Linked DNA regions of Homo sapiens: all the other regions are linked to region 5. The links come from fine-mapping of genetic effects on gene expression. A gene starts in region 5. Each other region holds a variant in brackets. All regions are shown on one strand. Distances are from middle to middle.

Region 1 (5,107 bases), 20 kb before region 5:
GACACATGGCTAGTTAGAATTGTCTTTCTTTGCTGTTGTATAGTAGGTACAGTAAAACTTTTCTTTTTAATTTATTTAAAAATATGTAAAACCCAGTCTGGCCTCTTAACAGAATTGCCTAATAAAATTGCAGACATAAATAATTATATTGAGGGATGGAAGCTAGAAGGGGTGATTGAATAAGATGAAAGAATGAGCAACTGAGCCGAGCAACTGAAGAAGCTCATTTTCAGGGGATAGAGTTGCAGAAAAAACACTTTAACAGTTTCTCTTTTGATTATTTGAAATAAACATGGCATATTTAATAAAGAAGTATAAAGCACAAATGGTAATCCTGTAAAAGATGGCAGAAAACAGTAATAGTTGTGATCCTTATAGTTAGAGATTTTTCAGATTTGAAGATCATGTAAACATTCCTTTGGGGAATTTCAAAATTAGAATGCATATCGAATATCATTAGGCACGTGCTCAAGTGCTAAGTGGTACAGTTATATCTAGAACAGCAAGATGGTACTGTGATAATTAAAGAGAAGAAATTGCTCAAAAAATTATTATCAAAAGTGAAAACTTAAAAAATGTGTATGCCCCTCGATCCAGAAGCTTCACAACCAAGAATGTATCCTAAGAAAATATAAATACTGGGCCGGGTGCGGTGGCTCACGCCTGTAATCCCAGCACTTTGGGAGGCTGAGGCAGGCGGATCACGAGGTCAGGAGATCGAGACCATCCTGGCTAACGCAGTGAAACCCCATCTCTACTAAAAATACAAAAAATCAGCTGGGCATGGTGGTGGGCACCTGTAGTCCCAGCTACTCGGGAGGCTGAGGCAGGAGAATGGCGTGAACACGGGAGGTGGAGCTTGCAGTGAGCAGAGATCGCGCCACTGCACTCCAGCCTGGGAGACAGAACGAGGCTCTGCCTCAAAAAAAAAAAGAAAAGAAAAGAAAATATAAATACAAATAATGCTTTTCTTTGACTCTGTTTACTCCAGTTTTACATATTTTTTTTTGAAAAAAAAAATAACTAAAAACAATCCACATCAATAAGGGACTGTTTACACCAATTGTGGCACACCCATACCATGGAAGGACATCTTAATGATTTGGGATAGTGGTGGGAGCTGCTTATTGCAGGAAGCGGAGGAGGAAGATGATGAACATTTTGACTTTCTTGTACTCTGGAAAATTTTCAAATAAATGAAGTTGATTTTAGCAATCTTCTAACTTTACTTTCTCCTCTTCTCTCTCTTGGAATCTCTTTGGGGTTCCAAAATTCTCAAGCTAACCCAGTCATTATAACATCTTTACTTTACAAAGTAATTTGAACTGCTCTCTCCTAAACTGTTTATGATCTTTACAACTTTTTCCCTCCCTTCACTAATAAATCCATAGAATCTCTAAAAAGATTCAGGGGTTTTGTTTGTGGTTTTTTGACAACCACAGGCACTGCGGCAGTGCTGGGGACATCAGTGAAGGGTATGGGCTATGGTTTGCTAAAAAGGGGTAATCTATAAATTGACAGTCTGAAGTCAGTGATCGCCTGCAGCATTTTTCATAGAACCAGATCACAAATATTCTCTGCATTAGCAGAAGTAAATGACTGGCTTTTTTTTTTTTTTTTTTTTTTGATGGCAAATGGTGCCTCTCCTATACCAGCAACACAAATTCTATGTAGTTAGAAGTAGAAAAGGGCATCAAACACACAGGGTTGTTTGTTAATGTGTTTCCAGTTTCTGAAAAGACCGTAATGACTTAGTTATGTCTGGTTACATTTTCTTTTAACTTTCAAAGCACTTTTCCATCTCCTTTCGTTGTTTCCTTATAATCACCCGTACAGAAGGTAGGGAAGGTACTATTGCTCCCATTTGAGAAATGATGAAACTGAGACACAAAGAGTTAATTGCAAGGTAGTAATAGGACCCAGGATGACTGACTGTGCCAGACATTTTGTCTTGTAGATCACAAGCAAGAGACCCCCTGGTGGCCAGTAAATTATTATTGTAGAAGCTAAGCATAATTTGAAACCATTTCCAGGAACTTAGACTGGGCTTGGAGTTTCAAAGTTCCATTAAAAAAAAAAAAAGAAGAAAAAAAAGGCAGGGCGAGGTGGCTCACGCCTGTAATCCCAGCACTTTGGGAGGCCGAGGTGGGA[A/G]GATCACGAGGTCAGGAGATTGAGACCATCCTGGCTAACACAGTGAAACCCCATCTCTAATAAAAATACAAAAAATTAGCCAGGCGTGGTGGTGGGCACCTGTAGTCCCAGCTACTCGGGAGGCTGAGGCAGGAGAATGGCGTGAACCCGGGAGACAGAGCTTGCAGTGAGCCGAGATCGCACCACTGTACTCCAGCCTGGGCAAGAGAGAGAGACTCTGTCAAAAAAAACGAAAAACAAAAAAACAAACAACAACAACAACAACAACAAAAATCAAAACAGCTGTTTGTCCTTGATAGGAGTGGAGATTTTTATATGCTGAGATAATAATAGACCGGTGATTTTTAACCAAAGTCAATTTTGCTCCCCACCCCTAATCTCATCCCTCTTCCCAAAGGCATTTTTGGTTATTGCAAATGGGAGGGAGTATTTTATTTTTCTTTCTTTCTTTCTTTTTTTTTTTTTTTTTTTTTGAGACAGAGTCTTGCTCAGTCACCCAGGCTGGAGTGCAATGGCATGATCATAGCTCACTACAGCCTTGATTTCTTGGGCCCAAGTGATCCTCTGGCCTCAGCCTGCTGAGTAGCTGGGACTACAAGTGTGAGCCACCATGCCTGGTTAATATTTTAACATTTTTAGTAGAGACAAGATCTCGCTATGTTGAACTCCTGAGCTCACGGGATCCTTCTGCCTTAGCTTCCCAAAGTGCTGGAATTACAGGTGCGAGCCACTGTGCCTGGCCTTTTGTTTGGGGGGGTGGGGAGGATTTGGGGAAGGGTGTATTACTGGAGTATTACTGGCATCTAGTGAGTAGCAGCTGGTGATCCCGCTAAACATCCTAGAATGCACAAGACAGCCCCCATAACAAAGACTATCCAGCTCATAGTTTTAATTGTTCTGAGGTTGAGGAACCCCTGCTTTAGACTGTCTCTTTGCCTTGGTTAATGGTGCTTGGCATGTTATCAGTTTGCCCTATGATTAGTCTCTGCCATCGAAACCACTGGGCAAGACATTTTAAAAGGGAGTTCAATAATGTGCCATCTTTTACCCCACATTTGCTGCTTTCTCTTAATTCTTCATCCCTTCTCTCAATCCTTTCCCCAGTTGTCATCATCCCTACTTCTCCAGCCAGCATTTGGCTTAATTCATGTACCTGTGTTTCTCTCTTTTTCCTCTTTGACATCAAATTGACATGGTTCAGTTCCACTGTGGTCTCTTTTTCTTGCTCTCTTAGAGAAAACACTGAACTTCGTGGACATTGGGTGATGGGTGGAGGTGCAGGCCCTGCAGGTGCCCCCAGGAATGTCGGTTGGGCCTCTCTGGGAGACTGCTTATCTGCCAGCTTCTATTATTAATTTTGGAAGAATGCTTGGGTGGAGGAGGCAGAGGCCTTCCCTTAGTGCCTTAGAGGAAACTCACAGGTGAATTTTCCTAGAAGTTAACTCTACTTCTGAAAGGAGGGTGAACAATTATACTCCATACTCACCTACAAGTTGTAACTCTTATTTGTGTAATAGCAATAAACCCTGTGGATAGTAGTCTCTGGCCATGCAGATATTTTCAGTTTGTTTTTAGACAATGGCAGAGTTGAATTTACTAAGAGGAACACTTAGAGTATTAGAGGGGCTTTCTGATTTTTTTGAGGGGGGCGGTTACAGAGGACCAGGTAATTTTGGATTTTATTTTCCAGAAGAATGCTGACATGGATGAGAAGCATTACTTTTATCTCACTGATAAAGGTTAGAACTTTCATACTCTAAGCAATTGATTTCTTGAAGACGACTGGACTAAACCAGTCTAATTAGGTTTTTTTCTGAGCTAGGTAAAATGTGTTAGTCATTATCTAGATCAGCAATTCTCAAAGTGTGGTTCACAGACCCCTGGGTGCTCCTCCTGAGATTTCTTCAGAAAGTCTGCAAGGTCCAAACTCTTTTTATAATAATATTAAGATGTTATTTGCCCTCTCCCCACCCCTTGTGCCACTTCTCTCTAATTTTGCACTGATGATGCAGAAGCAATGGTGATGCGAACTTTGGGTGCCTTGGCACAAATCAAGGCAGTGGCTTTAAAGTACACTAATTGTCTTTGTGTTCTTCACCTCCATGCACTCACAGTAAAAAGAAAAGCCGGTTTCACTGAAGAAGGTCCTTGTCAAAGTAGTAAAAAGTATTAATTAAATCTTGACCCTTGAGTGCCCATTTTTTAACATTCTGTGTGATAAAATGGAAAGTACACAGAAAGCATTGTTGCTGCATACTGAAGTACAAAAGTGATTGTCTTCAGCAAATCATTTATGCAATTATTTGAGCTGCAAGCCAAACTAGCCCCCACCCCCCCCCCTTTTTTTTTGTAGAGCACCATTTTTCACTTGAAAGAGCGACTGGCAGACAAACTGTGGTTATTCAAACTTGGGTATTCAGCAGAACTTTAATCAAAAACATATGAAGTAAACCTGTCATTTTGAGGAAAGAAAAACTGACAGTAGTTTATTAAAGATAAAATTTGGGTTTTCAACTAAAATTTTGAATTTTGGAAGACCTGTATTCACCACTGTGAGTATGACAGTTTCCTAGTACTAAAAGACTTTTCTGATGCAAGAAATGATGATATGATTAATATGATTTTAAAATATCATCTAAGGAAATGTGTCAAGCTTGGGAAGATATCAATAAGTCTATGTACTGATATTTTCAATATGATGTTACTAGATGATGCATGGGTGAAAGATCCATTCAGAGTGCAAGACAGACCAATGGATTTTAATGTAGCAGGGTAGGAAATGTTCATCGATATACTTTCAGATTCCACACTGCAAATCACCTTTAAGAAACTACTACTTATTGAGTTTTGATATGGTACCAAATAGTAATATCCACAATCATCTTAAAAAATCATTAAAATATTCTTCCCATTTCCAACCACATATCTGCTTAAGGCCAAATTTTCTTCATATACT
Region 2 (5,107 bases), 33 kb before region 5:
AGCACATACAGTAGGATTCCATTTATATAAGGTTGAAAACAGGCTGAGTGCAGTGGTTCATGCCTGTAATCCCGGCACTTTGGGAGGCTCAGGCAGAAGGATCGCTTGAGGCCAGGAGTCTGAGACCATTCTGAGAAACACAGTGAGAAATCGTCTACAAAAAAAAAAAAATAAATTAAAGTTGAAAACAAAGGCAAAATTGGTTGACAGTGAAAGATATCTGGATGGTGGTTACCTTTGCGGGAAAGATGATGGCTGAAAGGGGGCCCCAAAAGGGCTTCTGAGATACTGATGTTATTATTATTATTAATTATTATTATTATGTTGGTTAGAGACAGTGTCTCCCTCTGTTGCCCAGGCTGAAGTGCAGTAGTGTGATCACAGCTCACTGCAGCCTCGAAATCGTGGGCTTGAGTGATCCTCCCACCTCAGCCTCCCTAGCAGTTGGAACTACAGGCGCATACCACCATGCTTGGCTAATTTTTAAATGTTTTTTTTTTTTTGTAGAGATTAGATCAGGCTATGTTGCCCAGGGTGGTCTTGAATTCCTGGGCACAAACAATCCTCCTGCCTTGGCCTCCCAACGTTCTGGGATTACAGGTGCGAGCCACTGCACCCAGCCCTGGTCATATTCTATTTCTTGATCTTGGTAACAGTTACACAGGGGTATTCATTTTGTGAAAATTTATTGAGGTGTAAACTTATAATCTGAGTTAGCATGCTATACTTTAATAAAAGTTAAAAACAAAACTAAACACTACTTGTAGACAGTGATCAATTCCTAAAGTTGTTTTACAACTTTATATTCCCAGTCAGGGGAATAAGCTAGGCATCTTGATCTTTGTGTCTTTTCAATGTAGATTAATTGGGAAATAATAAAATAGCTGCTATCCTTGAGGACCTGTGTTACTTCTGTTCACAGTGTCCATGTGATGAAGAAAGGGCTCTATCTGATGAAGAAATGTCAGAAGATCTGACTCTTGTTGGCTCTATCACCTATTGACGCTACAATCTTTGATGTGTCAGAGTATTCTCTCTTGCCTTATTTTTGGTCAAATGAGGACTGCAATAATGATTTGTGAAGATTACACAAGATGTATTTATGAACATATTTTGTAAACATTAAGGGGCTACAGATTTGATTTGTTATGATCCAACAAATGTGCAGCGAGATTATATTTATGTCTCATAATGGGCCTAACGTTAGAAAGGGGCCAGGCCTTCAATAATGTTTATCAAAGGATGGAATGAGCCTGTGTTTCAGGATGTGAAATACTCATTCATTTTTTTCTATGTAGATTGGGGAAGGATTATAATATGATTCATTTTTATGTTTGAATTTGTTAGGCTATGGTGCCCAGTTATTTGAGCAAACATGTCTAGATGTTGCTGTGAGGTACTTTTAAGATGAGATTAGCATCTAAATTGTCAGCTTTGAGTAAAACAGATTCCCCTTTATTATGAGGGTGGGCATCACACAATCAGTTGAGGGTCTTAAGAGACTGAGCTCCTCTGAGGAGAAAGAAATTCTGCCTCTAGACTGCCATCGAACTGAAGACTGCAACACCCACTCCTCTCCAGGTCTCCAGGCTGCCCTGCAGATTTTGGACTTGCTAGCTCCCACAATTGCCAGTTCCTTGGAACAGATTTATCTACCTCTCTCTCCTTCTATGTGTGTGTGTGTGGGTGTATATGTATATATACACACACACCCCCACACACACCTATTACACACTGTGTTTGGGTTCTCCAGAGAAACAGAACCAATAGGATGTGTGTGTATATATCTCCTGTTATGTCTACGCACACACACACAGTTCTATTTCTCTGGAGAACCCTAATTAATACAGTGTGCAATAGGAAAAACCTAAAATGTCTTCTCCTACTGTTTATACTCTCAAAGCAACAAAGAGCTAGGTGCAGTGGCTCATGCCTTAATCCTAGCACCTTGGGAGGTCAAGGCAGGAGGATCGTTTGAACCCAGGAGTAAAAGACCAGCCTGGGCAACATAGTAAGATCTAGTCTCTACAATATTTTCTTTAAAAATTAGCTGGACATGGTGATGTGTGCCTTAAGTCCCAGCTAGTTGGTTGGCTGAGTGTCAGGGGGGATCACTTGAGCCCAGGAGGTTCAGGCTGCAGTGAGCTGTGATTGCGCCATTGCACTCCAGCCTGAGTGACAGAGCAAGACCCTGTCTCAAAACAGCAACAACACAGATGTTTCTGGTCACCAAAATGTGTGAGTTTTGGCCACATTAAGCAATTCTCCACTTCTTGGCAGACATTGACTGGGTATCCTACAATTTAATTCAGTTCTGACACTTACTCTAGTCAGCACAGACGCCACAGGTTAAGGGCTCAATCCCATGAGACTGCCCCAAACATCAGATGCCAAGTGCAAATAGTAGGTTCCCAGATTACCCACACCTTTTGTCTGACTTGGTTACAAATCAGAGGTTCCCATGACCCCCCAGGGGTTCAATCATTTGCTAGAATGGCTCACAGAACTCAGAGAACTCTTTACTTTTGTTTACCTGTTATTATAACAGGATGCAATTCATGGCCAGGCATGGTGGCTCACACCTGTAATCCCAGCAATTTCAGAGACTCAGGCTGGAGGATCACATGAGCCCAGGAGATCAAGACCAGCCTAGGCAACATAGTGAGACCCCACCTCTATTTAAAAAAAAAAAAAAAAGGCAGGGGGGATGCAACTCAGGAACAGCCAGATGAAAAAGATGCACAAGGCAATGTATGGGGAAGGGGTTGTGAGCTTTTATGGCCTCTTAGGGGATGCCACCTTCCATGATTTCAGCAACCCGGAAGCTCTCTGAACCCCGTAGTTTGGGGATTTTTATGGAGGCTTAATCATGTAGACATGATCAACAATTAACTCAAATGCAGTCCCTCTTTCCTTCCTGGAGGTTGCAGAGTAGGGCTGAAAGTTCCAAACTTTTAATCATGGGTTGGTCTTTCTGGTGACCACCCCCCTTCCAGAAACCCATGAAGAGTCACCTCATTAGAACAAAAGGTGCTCCTTTAACCCAAGAAACTCCAAGGAATTAAGCTCTGTTTCAGGAACCAGGGTCAAAGACCAAATATTAGAACAAAGAATGCACCTAGCAATTGAGATGCTCAGGAAATTACAAGGGTTTTAGGAGCTGTGTGCCAGGAACT[G/T]GGGTCAGACCAAATATATGCTTCTTCTTATTTCACACAGAAGATAGGATGATGAGAGGAAATTTTTAAAGTAACTGTTAGGGGAAAGAGGATCTAGTCCCCATTTTAAATAGGCTTGGGTCAACTGTTTTGTCTGAATTGTATGTGAAAACACAATTTTTCCCCTTATAGTTTCCCTTAATTTTGTATTATTTAAGTGAAAGTGCAGGAGGTTTACCTATTTTTTTAAATGTGCTTTTTATTCTAGTACGTGTGTGTGTATGTGTTTTAATCATAGTTTAAATCATAGTATATGAATTCACATCCTGGTTGTTTTTTTTTCTTCTTTGAGACGGAGTCTCGCTTTGTTGTCCAGGCCGGAAGTGCAGTGGCGCAATCTTGGCTCACTGCAACCTCTGCCTCCCAGGCTCAAGCAATCCTCGTGCCTCAGCTGCCCAAGTACCTGGGACCACAGGTGCATACCACCATGCCTGGCTAATTTTTGTATTTTTAGTAGAGACGGGGTTTTGCCACGTTGGCCAGGCTGGTCTCAAACTTCTGGTCTCAAGTGTTCCTCCCACCTTGGCCTTCCAAAGTGCAGGGATTACAGGCATGAGCCACCACACCCAGCCCCACATCCTGTTTTTATTGTTATATTTATAAGCAAGCAATTTTCTGTGTTGTGACAAACTGTCATAGATATCACTTTTAATGGCTGCATATCCAACCTATTGATATTAACTTATGTACTCATTCCTCTATTGTTTACATTAGATGGTTGTTGATGTTGTTACTGTTATTTAAAATATATAATGCAGCTTGGTGGGTAAAACACGAAATTTGAAAAGCTTTAGACCTGAGTTTGAATCTCAGAAATGCTACTTCTTTTTTTTTTGAGACGGAGTCTCGTTCTGTTGCCCAAGCTGGAGTGCAGTGGCGCGGTCTCAGAGAAATGCTACTTCTTAGCTGTGTGACTTGGGACAAATTACTCAACCGCTTTAATGTGAGATATGGGTGATACTACTTATATTTTATAGGCTGTAACGATTAAGTGAGATAACACATATAAAATGCCTAGTAGAGCACCTGGTACATAGGAGGCATTCAGTAAATGAGAAGTATAAAATTTCCAGTTCACTTTATAAAGTTCATAAGGGCAAGCAATAATTTTATTGTTTCCAACACCTACCATGGTTTATGATGCATAGAACTTAGCATAATACATATTTGCTTTCTTGAGCTTTGCAGAAATTTAGGATTATTTTCTTAAGTGGAATCACTGAGCCAAGGCTTATAGACAGATAAGGCTTTGGAAATGTGTTATAGATTGGTCTCTACCTGGCCAGGGGTGGGTGAAATTGGGCCAGTCGCCAAGGCTGGGCTTGCTGGGGATGGCCTGTTTCAGGAGCATGTTGGGAGTGTGGTAGTTTGGTTTGTGGTGGCTGCTCCTGATTTGGCTGTTCTCAAGTCTCTGGCTTTTGAGAGATATATGAATCTACAATAGCATTTTTGTTGTGATATAATCTCTGAGTACTTACAAAACAATTGCCGAGGTGATATATGATCGTTTCTATGGAAGAGCTTAGGGAGACCAAAGCATCAGGTGAATACACCTTGGTTGCTCCATTCTGAGCCCTTTGGATCCAGCTCTGTCAGCCTGTTCCATACCTGGAAGTGGTATAGCCAGTTAGAAATAATCTCTGTAAAGAGATTAAAGATACTGTCTTTATACAGATTATTGCACATTTATGCTTCTTGACTATGTCAAGGGTTGAAATTCAGTTTAGGCCTTCTACCAAGTAAAGTACCCATCTACCTGAAAGAATCAAATGGCTGTTATATTTAAAGGCAGCATGAGGGAAAAAAGCAGAAGTATGTAAGGCCTCTTTTTCATCATATTTGATAAAAATGAATTAGCAATCTTGATTAGCAAAAAGGCAGGGGATAGATCT
Region 3 (5,107 bases), 45 kb before region 5:
CCATCTAGGATAGTAACAGCTGGGAGATGGCCTTTGATAAAATTGTGTGAGGTAGAAAAAGAGATTGGGGGAAGGGCACAGAGGAGAAAGATGAGGCTGAAGGTTGATGAGGAGGGGCGGGAGTGCTGAAGGCTTCCATATGTCATTCTTGGCCCTTCAGACTCCACCTGCTTCCTGGGGGAATTTCACTTTTCCTGCTCTTGCCTATACACTGGTGATTCAAATGATTCAGAAATCCTTATCTCCAGCCCTGACCTCTATCCTGAGTTCCAGAACAGCCTGTTCAAGTGTCAGCTCTTCATTATGGATTTCACTTCAAAGTCAACATGTTCCAAAACTGAGCTCATTATCTTTCCCAGCAACCTATTCCGTCTCTCATATTCCCAATGTTTATGAAAGTGTTCAAGATAGAATCCTTAGAGGCCTGGGTGGCGTCTGCAGCTCTACCTCTGACAGTCTGCCTCTTCGAGGCCTCCTGAAGCTGCCCCTCCTCCTTCCCCCACTGCTGTCTCCTTGGTTCAAGCTTTGCCATCTCTGGGGCAATAGCAAGTGTCTTCCAACTGCTCTTTCTGCCTCCAGTTTCTTCTTGTTTTGATCTTGTTTTCTATTATTCTCTTAGAGTACCAGTGTTCCAAAGCTTTCTTTACAAGAAGTACCTGGGGTTTGATTACAAATGCAGAATTACCAGGCTTTCCCCCCAACCCCAGAAATTCTGATTCTGAGTCTGGACTGAGGCCAAGGAATTTTTTTTTTTTTTTTTTGAGACAGAATTTCACTCTGTCATCCAGGCTGGAGTGCAGTGGCACAATCAGGGCTCATTGCAGCCCTGACCTCCTGGGCTCAAGCAATCCTCCTTTATCACAATTTAGCTCTTACTCATCTTTTGCAAATACTTCCATATTAAATTGCTTAGTGGCCATGCCTTAGTTCGTGCTGTGCCCTCTGCCTAGAACTTCTCTTGGCCTCTTGTCTGCTTGGTGAACTTTTTTCTTTATTGAAATCATTGCTCAGATATCACTATCTTAGTATAATCTCCCCTAAGTACTGGGGCCACAGTGAGGGGCTTTGGCCTAGTTGCTCCCTTTAAAATTTGTACATGCCCAAATAAATACCTCGCATCTACCTAACAACCTTGCAATTATCCATTTACAATGACTGTCACTCCAACTACACCTCATTCCTTGAGTGTAGGGAAGCCTTTCTTCGTATTTTTTGTATTCCTGGGCCCAGAAAGCTGCCTGGCACAGGACAGAAGCTTAATAAACAGTAACTGCTGCAGCATGACAGAATGAGCAGAGGGTGTGGTGGAGTGCTAGCATGGCACCCAGATCTCAGGGCAGGAGCCAAAACTGGAAAGTAGCTTGCGTTCAGATTGAGAAAAAGACCCCAAAGCAACACTGAAAACCTTGGACCTTAACTTCCAACTAAGACAAAAGTTTTATTCCTAAGTGGGATTATTTAGCCAGAGAAAGGCTATGATTAGAGCTTTGATAACGTGGTGCAGGATGCTGAGAACAGTCTGGGAACTTAGACTTGAGACTGTGGAGATAATGCTGATGAGGAGTGGGTTCTGGGAGAGAACCTTGAGAGATATATTAGATGAGGCCTGATGAATGATAGATTCCAGGGATGGGAGAATGAGGAATCAAAAATCACTTGGAAGCTCAGCCAAGAGATCAAGGTCAGCATCAGCAGTGATAAGTCCTGGTGGTAGCATGCACTCTTTTTTTTTTTTTGAGGCAGAGTTTTGCTCTTGTTGCCCAGGCTGGAGTGCAATGGTGTGATATTGGCTCACAGCAACCTCCGCCTCCCGGGTTCAAGCGATTCTCCTGCCTCAGCCTCCTGAGTACCTGGGATTACAGGCATGCGCCACCACGCCCAGCTAATTTTGTATTTTTAGTAGAGACGGGGTTTCTCCATGTTGGTTAGGTTGGGCTTGAACTCCCGTCCTCAGGTAATCCACCCGCCTCGGCCTCCCAAAGTGCTAGGAACAGGCGTGAGCCACCATACCCGGC[C/T]CAGCATGCGCTCTTATATGGTGGGATGAAAATGGTACTTTACCTCTGTAGTCTCTCTCCCAATAACCCATAACCACTGTCCCATTAGGAGAAAAGCATCAGATAAATCCCAAGTGAGGGACATTCTACAAATTGCCTGATCAGTCCCTGCTCAAAACTGTCAAAGGTAGCAAAAACAGGGAAAGTCTAGGAAACTGTTAGAGCCAAAAGTAGCCTAAGAAAGCATGACTAAATGCAATGTGGTATCCTGGATGGGATCCTAACAGGAAAAGGGCATTTGAAATCTGCATAGAGCTTGGGCAACATAGTGAGATCCCCATCTCTACAAAAAAAATTTAAAAATTAGCCAGGTGTGGTGGCGAGTGCCTATAGTCCCAGCTATTTAGGGGAGTCAGGGGCAGGGAGATAGGGAGTGCCGAGGTGGGAGGACCACTTGACCCTGGGAGGTCAAGGCTACAGTGAGCCCTCATTAAGCCACTTATACTCCAGCCTGGGCAGCAAAGTAAGACAGGGTTTCACTGAAAGAAAAGAAAAAAATCTGAATAGTGTGGACTTCAATTAATAATGTATCAACATTGGTTGGTTCATCAATTATAACAAATGGACCTCACAAATATAAGATGTTAATTTTTAAAATTATTTTACAAAAATTAATTGAAGGTAGATGATGATGTGATTAACCTCATAATAATATTTGGGTTTTTTTGTCTGTGTTTTTTTTTTTGAGACAGGATCTCACTCTGTCGCCCAGACTAGAGTGCAGTGGCACGATCTCGGCTCACTGCAATTTCCGCCTGCCAGGTTCAAGCGATTCTCCTGCCTCAGCCTCCCAAGTAGCCAGGATTACAGGCACATGCCTCTACTGCCCAGCTGATTTTTGTATTTTAAGTACAGACGGGGTTTCACCATTTTGGCCAGGCTGATCTCGAACTCCTGAAGTCAGGTGATCCACCTGCCTCGGCCTTCCAAGTGCTGCGATTACAGGTGTGAGCCACCGCGCCCAGCCTTATTATGGTATTTGGATATTGCATGTTGTGTGGATGGAGTATGGCGATAATACGGGAAATACAAGAGGAGGACTTGTGTGGAGTAGGAGGTCACTCGGAAACCATGGTTATTTCATTGGTATTCAAAATCTGAAGTTTCTTATATGAATTTCTTGCTGTGCATCTCTTGCTTTCACTTTTGGGTATTAACACTCAAGCCTGTCTCAAGTCCACTTCATTCTTTGCTTGACCTAACTCAGGGGTAACTGTCAGTCTTACATAGACCTGATGTTAGCACCATGGTTCCTTGTGCCTCAAACGTTTTCCACCAGATTGTCTCCTAGTCAGCTCTTCCTTGTCATTCATCTCAAATGTCCCCTGCCCAGAAAGCCTCCTTTGATGACCTGATCTAAAGTAGCCCCTCCCCAGTCACTCCACATAGCATGGCTCTGTTGTGTTTTGTTCATGGCTCTTATCACTATCTAATATTTACTTGTCTGTTTACTTGTTTATGGTATGTGGCGTATTTTCCCACTCAAACTGAAGTCCCATGAAAGCAGAAGCTCACCTGATTGGTCACTGCTCTATACTTCACTGCGCAACAGTACCCAGAGTGCTAGTGATGCTCAGGAATTATCTGCTTAATTAATTCATGTAAAACACTCTCTTTGTCAGCTTGGCGACTGTCACAAAATAGCACAGCCTGGGTGACTTCAACAACAAACATGTATTTCCTACAGTTCTGGAGGCTGAAAAGCCCAAAATGCAGGTGCTGATGGATTCCTGGTGAGGGCTTTCTTCCTGGCTTGCAGACAGCTGCCTTCTCACTGTGTCCTCATGTGGTGGAGAGAGAGAGATCTCTCCTTAGAAGGCACTAATCCCATCATGGGGACTCTACTCTCAGGGCCTCATCTAAATCTAATTACCCCCCAAAGGCTCCACATCCTAATACCATCACACTGAGGGTGCAGCTTTAACATATGAATCTTGGGGGAACATGATTCAGTCCATAACAAACACCATTATGGCTCCATCCGCTCTGCCACCCAGATACATTAGTGTAGGATATTAGTGATCGTAAGAAAATTGTGACTCTTTCATGCTATTTCCATGTCCCTCTCATATTCCATTTATAAATAGAATAAAAGCAAGAAAATTCTCTTCCTTATAATTCCTTTCCCAATTCTATTTCCCTTAGAAAAAGCAAACCATTCAAGTAACAGAAGCATAGCTAAATGAAATGCATTATATCCTTGCCAGACCTTAACAGGGAGTTAGTTAAGGGGCCCTCAGACTGCCTTCCTCTGGCTGTAATCAGAGGAGGAAACAATTGAGACATTTACCCTTTTTCCTCTTACCAATTTCTCTTCTCCTTTTCTCCTTCATCTCTGACTCTTTCCTAATCCCCCCTGGCCTCGTGGAGGGAGAGGTGTTGGTACCCTTGTACTCTCCAGATCTCAGGAAAGATGCAGATAATGACTCAGGGCTTCCTCCGGAAGAAGCATCACCTCTAAGCTATGCTGCGGAATCACTTAGAGGTTATGAGTGCAAGAACTTCCCTCAGCATAATAAACACCTTTCTGGCGTAACAGGAGAATGAAGAATACTTTCTTTGGGCCCAGGGACATTATTGCTTAATTTATTCTATATATATATAAAATAAATTAAATATATATAGAATAAATTATTTAAGTATAAAATACACACATATGTTTATGTGTTTGTAAATAAAACAACATACAGGTATACATGCATTTAGCCATTTAGAGTTCAACAGCATTTCAGTTGTATTTTTTAGCATTTCAACCACAAAAACTGTTGAACTAGGCACTTACAGGTATTACTAAGAGCAAATACAAATTCTATATTAATGTGTATGACATTTCTTCATTAAAGAGCTGTCACTATAATTGGCTGGCCCACGAATGTGCATCATAAGCTATCAAAACACAGACATTTTCAAGCAGCTCTTAGAACAATGCAAGGCTCTTATCTTCTGATATTTTACACACGTACACACACACATAGACACACACACAATGGTTATTTTTATTAGTGGTCAGAACTCAGTAAGCAACACTGAATAGATAAGTGAAAAAGTGAATT
Region 4 (5,107 bases), 130 kb after region 5:
CTAATAGCTTTTGGGGGGGTCTTTAGGGTTTTCTATATATAAGATCATGTTGTACATAAATAGAGATAATTTTACATCTTTCTTTCTGATCTGGATGCCTTTTCTCTCTTTTGCTTGCTTAATTGCTCTGGCTAGGACTTCCTTGTCTTGTTCCTTATCTTAAAGGAAAAGTTTTCGGCTTTTCATCATTGAGCATGTTAGTTGTGGGTTTTTCATTTATGGCCTTTATTGAAGTTCCTTCCTTCTATATCTAATTGAAGTGTTTTTAATCATGAGAGGATGTTGAATTTTGTCCATCCTTTTCTCACATCCACTGAGATAATCAAATGATTTTTATCCTTTATTCTCTTTATGTGGTACATCACATTTACTGACTTGCATATGTCGAACCATCCTTGCATCCCAGGAACACATTCCACTTGATCATGGTGTATGATCTTTTTAATGTGCTGTTGAATTTGGTTTGTAGTATTTTGTTTCAGATTTTTGCACCTATATTCATCAGGCATATTGGCCTGTAGTTTTCTTGTAATGTCCTTATCTGGTTTTGGTATCAAGGTTCTACTGGCCTTCTAAGAAGAGTTTAAAAGTGTTCCCTCCCCTTCAATTTTTTTTCTTTTTTTGAAAGAGTTTAAAAAGGATTGGCAATATTTTTTCTTTAAATACTTGGGAGAAATCACACATGAAGCCACATGGTCTTGGCCTTTTCTGGGAGGTTCTTGATTACAGATTCAATCTCTTGTGCATTATTGATCTGTTCAGATTTTCTATTTCTTTGCACTTCAGTTTTGGTAGGCTGTGTATTTCCAGATATGTTTCATTTCTTCCAGGTTATCCAATTTGTTGGCATGTAATTGCTCAAAGTAGTCTCTTATGATCCTTTGTATTTCTACAGTATCAGTTATAATGTCTCATCTTTCATTTATAATTTTATTTGAGTCCTTTTTTTGGCTAGTCTAGCTAAAGGTTGGTCAATTTTACCTTTTCAAAAACACCAACTCTTAGTTTCATTGGTCTTTTCTATTCTCTTTATAGTCTCTATTTTATTTATTTCTGTTCTAATCTTTATTATTTCCTTCCTTCTGCTAACAGGAAGCTTAGTTTGGTCTTCTTTTCCTAGTTTTCTGAAGTGTAAAGTTAGGTTATTTGAGATCTTTATTTTTCTTTCTTAATTCTACAGTTTACTTTAAATTACAGAATTTAGGTTGTGGGTTTCTATTAGTTCACTATATTATTCTCTCGTCTTATGTGTATGCTTCAAAATCTTCACAATAAAATCTTAGAAAAAAGCATACACAGAAGATGAATGTGCAAAATACAAAACATAGTGTAACTTTGTTGAAACAGGAACGGGATTCCAGAGCTTTTGCACTGGTTCCTTCCTTCCCACCTGAGATATACCTCCCTGGAACTCTGGTCTGAGGAACACAACTTGAAATGACTAATATATAGATAAGCCACCTTGTCAGGTAGGGGAAGTACTAGCAAGATGCAATAGTACTGTGGGGGATTTAGTTATCTAAATAGCTGCTCCAAAACCTTGGTCTACTAAAACCAGGGTATCACTAACTTTTTGCCTTGTACTGCTAGCAATTTCATTTACACACAGAAATAGCAAGGAAAATGGCTACTTAGAACTAAATTCTGATCAAATAGGAAGGGCTGGTAAGTGACAGATCATTGGCAGAAGGTTGCCAGGCGGCTTTGGGATGGGCAATGAACGTAACACTGGACAGAAACAGATGTGTATCTCAGGGCTACTCACCATGATAACCTAATCAGTTATTAACAAAGGAAGGAGAAGAAAGGAAAAGTGTCCAAAGTAACCAAAGTGGCCATAGAGGTAACTGCTATGTTCAGGTTAAAATGTACAAATGACAGGAGTAGCAAATAATTGAGATTGAATACAAAAGCCTTGCACCAACTTTTAAGTGTAGTTTCTGGAATGCTAAAGACAAAAAATAAGACTTTTGAAAAGGATTGGGGGGGGGGGGAAGCAAAATAGAGGAAAGTTAGGAACACTTCTCAATCAGGTGGCTTCACATGAACTGAAAGTCAATTTCTCATTTCCTCTGTCAAAGAGAATGTTCTTCAAACCGCAAAGGAGAAAACAGAACTCATTTACGTGAGTATAGGTGCCTTCAAACGTGACCACAGAAATAATACAGTAATAGCTGAAAAGTTTAGGAATCAGGAGAGGTGGCATCAAACACAAAGCGGTTCTTGTATCCCAGTGGGAAAACAAATAGGCTCCGGAAAATATTGATTCATGAGGTAATGTAATCCCTGGAAAATTCTAGGATGAAATATTACACAGGAGTTCGATAAGCATTTGGAAAAAGAAGTAGTGATAACCAGACAGTAATGGGTACA[C/G]TGTGAACTAACCTCACATATTTTATTGGTTGGTTTATTAGAAGGAGAGATTAAGGATGACAGAGACCACTATCCACTTGTCTTTAGGCAAGACATTTGCCAAGAATTTAATGATGTCTTCTTGGACCAGGATAAATGACTGTACAGGGGGGTAAATTTAAATGTCTGTTACTGATTAAAGAATTGTTACAACGTGTAGATTAATAAACAGAATGACAGCTGGGTATGGTGGCTCATGATTATAATTCCAATACTTTGGGAGGCCCAGGTGGGAGGATTGTTTGAGTCCAAGAGTTTGGGACCAGCCTGGGTAATATAGTGAGACCCCATCTCTACAAAAAGTAAAAAAATTAGCTGGGCATGGTGGTATGCACATAATCCCAGCTACTGGGGAGGCTGAGGTGGATTGATTGCTTGAGTCTAGAAGGTAGAGGCTGCAGTGAGCGGTGATCGTGCCACTGTATTCCAGCCTGGGAAACACAGCAAAACCCTGTCATTCATTCATTCATTAGTTAAAATAAATAAATAAATGGAATGTAAAACTGAATTGAGGGGGAGGTTCCTTGAGTTGACGTGTGATTGTTCCAGTCTGTCTTTTTTTCTATGATTTAGAACTCGGGATTGTGAAAGCAGAGGATGACATGATGCTGCAAGGGAGAGAAAATGCTCTGACAAGGTATTCAAAGATACAGATAGGATGGAACACTGAGAAGAAATAAATAAAACTCTTTGGGTATAAATGTAAAGTTCTGTACTCAGATCTTAGAAAATCAATTGTGTAAGTACAGGCTTGGGGATAATCTGAACATTTTTGAGATTGACGTCTATGATTCAATTTTGTAGTGTGGCAGCCAAAAGGGCCAATGCCATTTTAGTTTGATTTAACACAAGTGTAAAACTCAAAACCAAGAAGGTAGCAGTCCCACTGTGCTCTGACCTGATCAGATTACAACTGGAACACTGAATACAGTTCTAGACTAGACAGTTGAAGGAAGAATTGATAAACTGGACTGTGCTTAAGGGAGGGGACAGCTGTAAGCCATCGAATATGGGAAATGGCTGAAGCAACTAGAAAGGTTAGGCTGGAAAAAAAAATGAGACTTCGGGGAGTCAAATGTGATCTTACTACAGATGACGGCTGTTAGAGGAATGGAATGGTTTAATGATGGTTCAGAAGGTAGAACTTTATTTAAAAAGAAAAGAGGCCAGGCGCAGTGGCTCACGCCCATAATCCCAGCAGTTTGGGAGGCCAAGGCGGGTGGATCACAAAGTCAGGAGTTCAAGACCAGCCTGGTCAAGATGGTGAAACCCTCTCTCTACTAAAAATACAAAAATTAGTCTGGCGTGCTGGCAGGCGTCTGTAATCCAGCTACTCGGGAGGCTGAGGCAGGGAATTGCCTGAACCTGGGAGGCAGAAGTTGCGGTCAGCCGAGATGGCGCCACTGCACTCCAGCCTGGGCAAAAGAGTGAAACTCCGTCTCAAAAAACAAAAAAAAAAAAAAAAACAAAAAAAAAAAGGGAAGAAGAGAATTCAGCTCAAGATAGATAAAAACGTTTTAACAATTGGAGGTATTTAAAAATCAGTTGGGGTGCTGTGTGATATTAAGTTCCTCATCTGTGGAAGTATCCTAATGAAAGTTAGAAAGGCACTGGTCTGTGAGGTTGTAAAGGTAACACTTACTTTGCAGTTTGTGAGATGTTGGATTTGGTGACCACTGAAGGCCTTTCAAGGTAGAATTCTATGCCATGAGAATTGCACTGAAATTAGTCACTCAAACACAATGTCAGGGAGGTTTTTATACAGCATAAATAATACTCCGATAATGTGAATTGCTTATGACTTCAAATTTTTAAAAATGCACTTAGATACAATATTTAAGGTTATTAAGGAGACTGAGCAAGTAAAGATAATAAACACGCAATATTACCTTGACAGGATATGAAAAAAGCTTAACGAAACCAAAATCATCTCCGGTGGCTAAAAGGGAACAGTCTTTGGTAAGACTGGCAGCATTTACGTCAGTTATATCGCTATGTGCTGGCCAGATTCCCTCACAGGTGGGCCCCAGGACACAGGTCCATGTGTCCCACTCTATCTTCTCGATCTGAAAAAGAACGAAAGAGAATGATATTTTTGCACAACCTAGTTTGTTTTATTTAAAAGAAACAGTTTGCACCTGAGTAATTCTAAATTACTTTGCCAACGTTAGGCATTTGTGTTGAGTGCTGAGGTACACAAATTCTAAGTTGCATATTTAAAGTGGTTATTTGCATTGTCTTCAGAAGCCAACACTGCAGTCAAATACCCAAATGTTTTTCTCTAGATAAAATGAACATTTTGAAATTGTGGAAATTTGATAATAATAAGGTATTTTAGTTCTTAACTAGACATTTATCATTGTATAAGCCATAAGCTGGATCCAGATTCCCCAACGCCAGCACTGATGTCTTAGGCTGGAAAATTCTTTGTTGTTGGGACTGTCCTGTGCGTGTCAGGATGTTTAGAGCATCTCTGGTCTCCGCCCACTGGATGCCAGTAGCATACCCTTGTCCCCAGGCATTGCCAAATGTTCCTGGGAAACAAAATTGCTCTCAGTTGAGAATCACTGACCTAGGCTGATCAATGGAGATGATCATTTAGCCAATTATTTTAAAAAGTTACAAGACACAACTTTAAAAAACATGACTGCTTCCTTGGAGGAAAAAGTAATAAGATTCTGCAGCAAGCTTAATA
Region 5 (5,107 bases):
GGTATTTTTAGTAGAGATGGGGTTTCACCATGTTGGCCAGGCTGGTCTCAAACTCCTGACCTCAAGAGATCTACCCGCCTCAGCCACCCAAAGTGCGGGGATTATAGGCATGAGTCACGGTGCCCGTCTGATAAGCTATTTTCAAATATAAATTATTGAATAATTATTTTAAAACTATTATTAGTATCTAGAATGTGCATTTTTCTTTTAACTGGTTCAAATGTCCACCAGAATTTTGTTAGTGATAGTGATATTTACATCTAGTTACAACAATGTATAACTAGCTTTACTTTTAATTGTGGTAGAGCAGCAACAGCCTCCTTTCTTTTTGCTTTGTTGATCATTCTATGAAAGCTGGGCAAACTCTTTACTCATCTATCTATCAAATACTTATTTTTTTAGAAGTCACTGAGATTAATAAAATTTATTTTTATTCTGCACCAGATAGTGCTTATATTATTGCATCAATATTAACTGCTATTTCCTATTAAAATTGTAAATCTACTATTTATAATTATTCTTTTGTGAAACTTTGATTAAAGATACTCCTTTGAGACTATTTTAGTAGTAGTAGGTACAGGGATATATGAATGCAGAAATATCATATAAACAACTTGCAAATAACGTAAGTCCTGTTTATATTAGACATACATAAAGGCCCTGTGAAACTTATCATTAAGGAATTTCAGAACAGTCATAGTGGGAAAAGCATGCGGGGAAGACTGCTGATAGCTAAACTGTGACAATAGAAAAGGTCGTATCATAAAATACTGTTAGTATATTTTTGTATGTTTATGCAATTGGTTGAAAATCAGGCAAATTTTTTATAATTTTTGATAAATATTTGACAAAGACTTCAAATATGTCTCTTGTAGTCACCATTGTAGAAATTTGTTTTGTTTAAATTCATTTGGCATTAACTTCCCGCCCCAAAATTCTACATCAATACATCTCTCTTCCTACTCTTCCCAACCCCTCCAAAAAATAACACCAAACTCAAAGCAAGTCACAAACGTTTTGCACAAATAAAGCCAGTTCTCCGTGGAATTAATGTGATAGGTCTTGAATATATTGTTGATAATTAACCCAATCAAGTAACATTGCCAGGAAATCTTTATTCTTTTCCTTTTTTAAAGGTTCATAAACTTTATTTCTTAGAGCAGTTTTAGGTTTACAGAAAAGTTGAACAGGAAGTACAGAGTTCCCATACACTCTCACTCCTGCCCCCTAACCACAGTTTCCTCTATTATTATTAACATAACGCATTGAGGTGGTACATTTGTTACAACTGATGAACTGATATTGATATATCATTAACTAAAGTCAATAGTCTACATTAGGGTTCACTCTTTCTGTTGTATAGTCCTGTGGGTTTTGTCAAATGCATAATGTTATGTATCCACCATTACAGGATAATACAGAACAGTTTCACTGCCCCCAAAATCTTCTGTGTTCCACCTATTTATCCCTCCCTCCAACTCTTACTTTTCTTTTTTAATACCCAAATTAAGCCACAGTAATATAAATTAGTTGGAGCTAAGAATTTGCCAGTGATTCCCCATGGCAATCAAACTTTCTTAATTATTAATCTAGACTAGCACTGTCCAAAAGAAATATAATGTGAGCCATTATGTATTTAAAAAACTCTAGAAGCTGCTTTAAAAGGAACAAGTAAAATTAATTTAATAATATTATACTTATCCCAATATATCCAAAATATCAATTTCAACATTCAGTCAACAGGAAAGCTGAGATATTTTACATTTCGGAGGTACTAATTCTTGAAATCCAGTGCGCATTTTACACTTACAGCACATCTAATTTCAGCCTAGCTACATACATTCCGAGTGTTCAATCAGTAGCCACAAGTAGCCAGTACCTGTCAGGTACAGCACAGATTTAGACTTTGAGCAACTTGAAAGCAGGTTATCCTCTTCTCTCCAGGGCCTCCAGAGTAGGCATGCAGTGAATATTTTTGAAAGGTAAATCAGAAAGATAAAAGGATCCTGATTCTTACAAAGATGTTCTGCAACTACTCTCTTTAAACTCTCCAGCCTCATAAAAAGTGGAATGGGGATCATGCTTATTCCTGCATATCAAACCAATGACTATGGGGCTTCCTGACTCCCAGAAAGCCTGAATCATCCGAAATGTTGACTCATGAACCTAAGGTGACTGAAATGTAACGTGAACCAAATTAGCTTTCCAAGGCATCTTTGTATTTCCACTTTCCTGTCTCCCCGCTGCCTCTCTCTTTGGGTGACTCACTCTCTTACCATGTAAGAGTCCAGCAGGCAAGGCCCCAAACTCTCTTTGGAAGAAGAGCAGACTTTCAAATGGTCGGCCCCAGATCCCTAGTTAATTCAGCACAGCTGTTTTCCTCCCAATTTCGGGGGCTGCGGTTTAGACTGAGTGAGCCTAACTGTCAAAAAACAATTTTTTTCTTATTTTAGGGTGGTAGTAGTAGTGATGTAGTTTGGAACTTTGAGTGAACAAATAATCTTTTATTTCAAAAATCTTTAAAAATCCTTAGGGCCCACTTCCCAGTCCCGCTAATACCTTTCTCCAGTCGGGTTTCTTCCTTTCCCGGGAGGAAAGTTTCCACTCTCAGTTCCCCCAGGATAACGCCCTTCCGGTGGCGCGCCAGAAACCGCGCCGACCCCTCCCAGCCAGCAGCCCGCCCCCTTTCCCAGTGCTCTAACGACATACGGACGCCAGCTGCGGGCAAGGCCAAGACCCCACCCCAACTCACGGTTACCCAAAGTGGGGGTGGAGCTCCCAGCTCTCAGCCCCGCCCATTGAACGCAATCCCAGCCGGTAAGAGAGAGGAAGTGCCGTAGTCCCCACCCACTTTCATCTCCTTCCCTTTCTGTTGGCCCGGCTGGTCGCCTATCTTCTCGATCCTGTAGCCGATTGGCTCTCTCCCTCCCGCGCCAGTCCCTGCCCTCCCCTGGGGAGGGTGAGTCACGCCAAACTGGGCGGAGAGTCCGCTGGCCTCACTCCTAGCTCATCTGGGCGGCGGCGGCAAGTGGGGACAGGGCGGGTGGCGCATCACCGGCGCGGAGGCAGGAGGAGCAGTCTCATTGTTCCGGGAGCCGTCACCACAGTAGGTCCCTCGGCTCAGTCGGCCCAGCCCCTCTCAGTCCTCCCCAACCCCCACAACCGCCCGCGGCTCTGAGACGCGGCCCCGGCGGCGGCGGCAGCAGCTGCAGCATCATCTCCACCCTCCAGCCATGGAAGACCTGGACCAGTCTCCTCTGGTCTCGTCCTCGGACAGCCCACCCCGGCCGCAGCCCGCGTTCAAGTACCAGTTCGTGAGGGAGCCCGAGGACGAGGAGGAAGAAGAGGAGGAGGAAGAGGAGGACGAGGACGAAGACCTGGAGGAGCTGGAGGTGCTGGAGAGGAAGCCCGCCGCCGGGCTGTCCGCGGCCCCAGTGCCCACCGCCCCTGCCGCCGGCGCGCCCCTGATGGACTTCGGAAATGACTTCGTGCCGCCGGCGCCCCGGGGACCCCTGCCGGCCGCTCCCCCCGTCGCCCCGGAGCGGCAGCCGTCTTGGGACCCGAGCCCGGTGTCGTCGACCGTGCCCGCGCCATCCCCGCTGTCTGCTGCCGCAGTCTCGCCCTCCAAGCTCCCTGAGGACGACGAGCCTCCGGCCCGGCCTCCCCCTCCTCCCCCGGCCAGCGTGAGCCCCCAGGCAGAGCCCGTGTGGACCCCGCCAGCCCCGGCTCCCGCCGCGCCCCCCTCCACCCCGGCCGCGCCCAAGCGCAGGGGCTCCTCGGGCTCAGTGGGTGAGTGCCGCGACCTCTCGCTTCGCGCCGCCCCTCGCGCCCCTCCCTCTTTTGTGTGCAGCCCCAGATGCTTTGGGCTGGTCCCTCCTCTCCGCCCCGAGGGCGCTTTGTCTGCGGACTTCGGGGCGATGGCGCCCCGTCTGGTTGGAAGCGCGGGGAGAAGGGTGGGGCGGCCCTTGGAGCCCGGGTTTGTTCTTATTGTCCGTCTTGGTTTCGGGGAACACGTGCACCGCTCCCGGCTCCCACTTTCACCCTGTGTGATGCCCAGCGTACGGATTCTCGGAAGTTAGGCACCCACCCGTAGTAGGAGCCGGGTATATACCCGAGAGCCAGGGTTGTGGATTTATCGGGTTGGTTGGGCTTCGAGGTGAGGAAGGAAAGGCCTTGGCACCCAGATATTTTTAGGAGGTGCTTTTGTCTACCCGTCTGGGTTGCTCCTTTGGAAAAGGTGCAGTTTTGCTGCGGGTCTGTTGGCCTGCATTCTGCCCCGGGCTCCCTCCTCACCTCCTGGCTGGCGTGGGTGGCCCCTTTGCGCTTCCCCTCCCCCTCCTCCTGTGCTCGTGGGGAGCTGGCCGAGTGGAAAACGTCCACATTGACCCAACCGCAGTGAAGGGAGAGCGCCTCCAGTGGTGTGGTGCGTGGAGAAATGGGAAGGAGAGAGTTCTGGTAAAGTCCTGCCACCGCCCAGCTCCCCGGGGTGTGATGTGGACTGCTCCCCACCAGCTAAACCGAGCCAGGGAAAGGGGATCTAGGCATTGTGTTCGAGGGGGCGTAGTTCTGCCGGGGTTTCAGCTGCAGGGTCGGAGGAATTGCTGTTAGTGTGGACTTGGCCCAGCCTCTTAGTGCATCATAATTGAATCTTACAGAAAAAAATAAAAGGCAAAATGGTTGACATTCCTAAAGAAGGGAAAACCTGTGGATTCCTTGCCAGGAATTGGCTAATTGAACTCGTGGCAGATTTACCATGAGACACAGAGAAATGTTTTGAGACAGACATTTTCATATATATTGGTTAGAAATACTGTTTTTCAGAAGGATATGTTTTAGGTTACAGAATCAAAATACGGTCACGTGCCTCATAACGACGTTTAGGTCAAGGACAGACCGCATTTGCAACGGTGGCTCCATAAGGTTGTAATGGAGCTGAAAAATTCCTGCCGCCTAGCGACGTCTTGATCTTGACCCTGTGTAGGCCTAGGGTAATGCGTTTGTATCTTAGTTTTTAACAAAAGTTAAAAAAAAAATAGAAAAAAGCTTATAGAATAAGAATATAAAATTTCTTTTCTATAGCTTTAAAATGTGTTTGTGTTTTAAGTTA

Which allele goes with the higher level. Alleles are on the strand shown, and positions count from the first base shown. SD is a standard deviation of normalised expression in the study named. Not every link is listed here.
For the expression in atrial appendage of the gene that starts at base 3,083 in region 5, T is the low allele of the variant in region 3 and C is the other (small effect, 0.29 SD a copy in GTEx).

What was found. PIP is the estimated chance that this variant, and not a neighbour inherited with it, causes the effect.
Region 1: its variant is the best candidate, but not a certain one, in a credible set for the expression of RTN4 in sun-exposed skin (GTEx, PIP 0.57).
Region 2: its variant is the best candidate, but not a certain one, in a credible set for the expression of RTN4 in whole blood (TOPMed, PIP 0.62).
Region 3: its variant is the best candidate, but not a certain one, in a credible set for the expression of RTN4 in atrial appendage (GTEx, PIP 0.79).
Region 4: its variant is the best candidate, but not a certain one, in a credible set for the expression of RTN4 in pancreas (GTEx, PIP 0.53).

The regions. Positions count from the first base shown.
Region 1 is chr2:55,068,063-55,073,169 of GRCh38, reverse strand. It overlaps a transcript of RTN4 not described here. Among named protein-coding and RNA genes, the nearest start is that of RTN4, 20 kb to the right of the region's middle. The variant A/G (reference allele first, on the strand shown) is at 2,152.
Region 2 is chr2:55,081,894-55,087,000 of GRCh38, reverse strand. LOC105374662 (a long non-coding RNA gene) reads right to left here. Exons shown (of 3, transcript XR_002959387.2): 2 at 4,694-4,823; 3 at 1-154. It also overlaps a transcript of RTN4 not described here. Among named protein-coding and RNA genes, the nearest start is that of RTN4, 34 kb to the right of the region's middle. The variant G/T (reference allele first, on the strand shown) is at 3,177.
Region 3 is chr2:55,092,956-55,098,062 of GRCh38, reverse strand. It overlaps a transcript of RTN4 not described here. Among named protein-coding and RNA genes, the nearest start is that of RTN4, 45 kb to the right of the region's middle. The variant C/T (reference allele first, on the strand shown) is at 2,016.
Region 4 is chr2:54,916,130-54,921,236 of GRCh38, reverse strand. It overlaps EML6 (EMAP like 6), which reads right to left. Exons shown (of 42, transcript NM_001039753.4): 26 at 4,302-4,478. Among named protein-coding and RNA genes, the nearest start is that of RTN4, 130 kb to the left of the region's middle. The variant C/G (reference allele first, on the strand shown) is at 2,374.
Region 5 is chr2:55,048,427-55,053,533 of GRCh38, reverse strand. RTN4 (reticulon 4) reads left to right here and starts at 3,083. Exons shown (of 9, transcript NM_020532.5): 1 at 3,083-3,789. The coding sequence starts at 3,234. RefSeq lists enhancers at 3,253-3,302, 3,265-4,077 and silencers at 3,443-3,502, 3,643-3,762.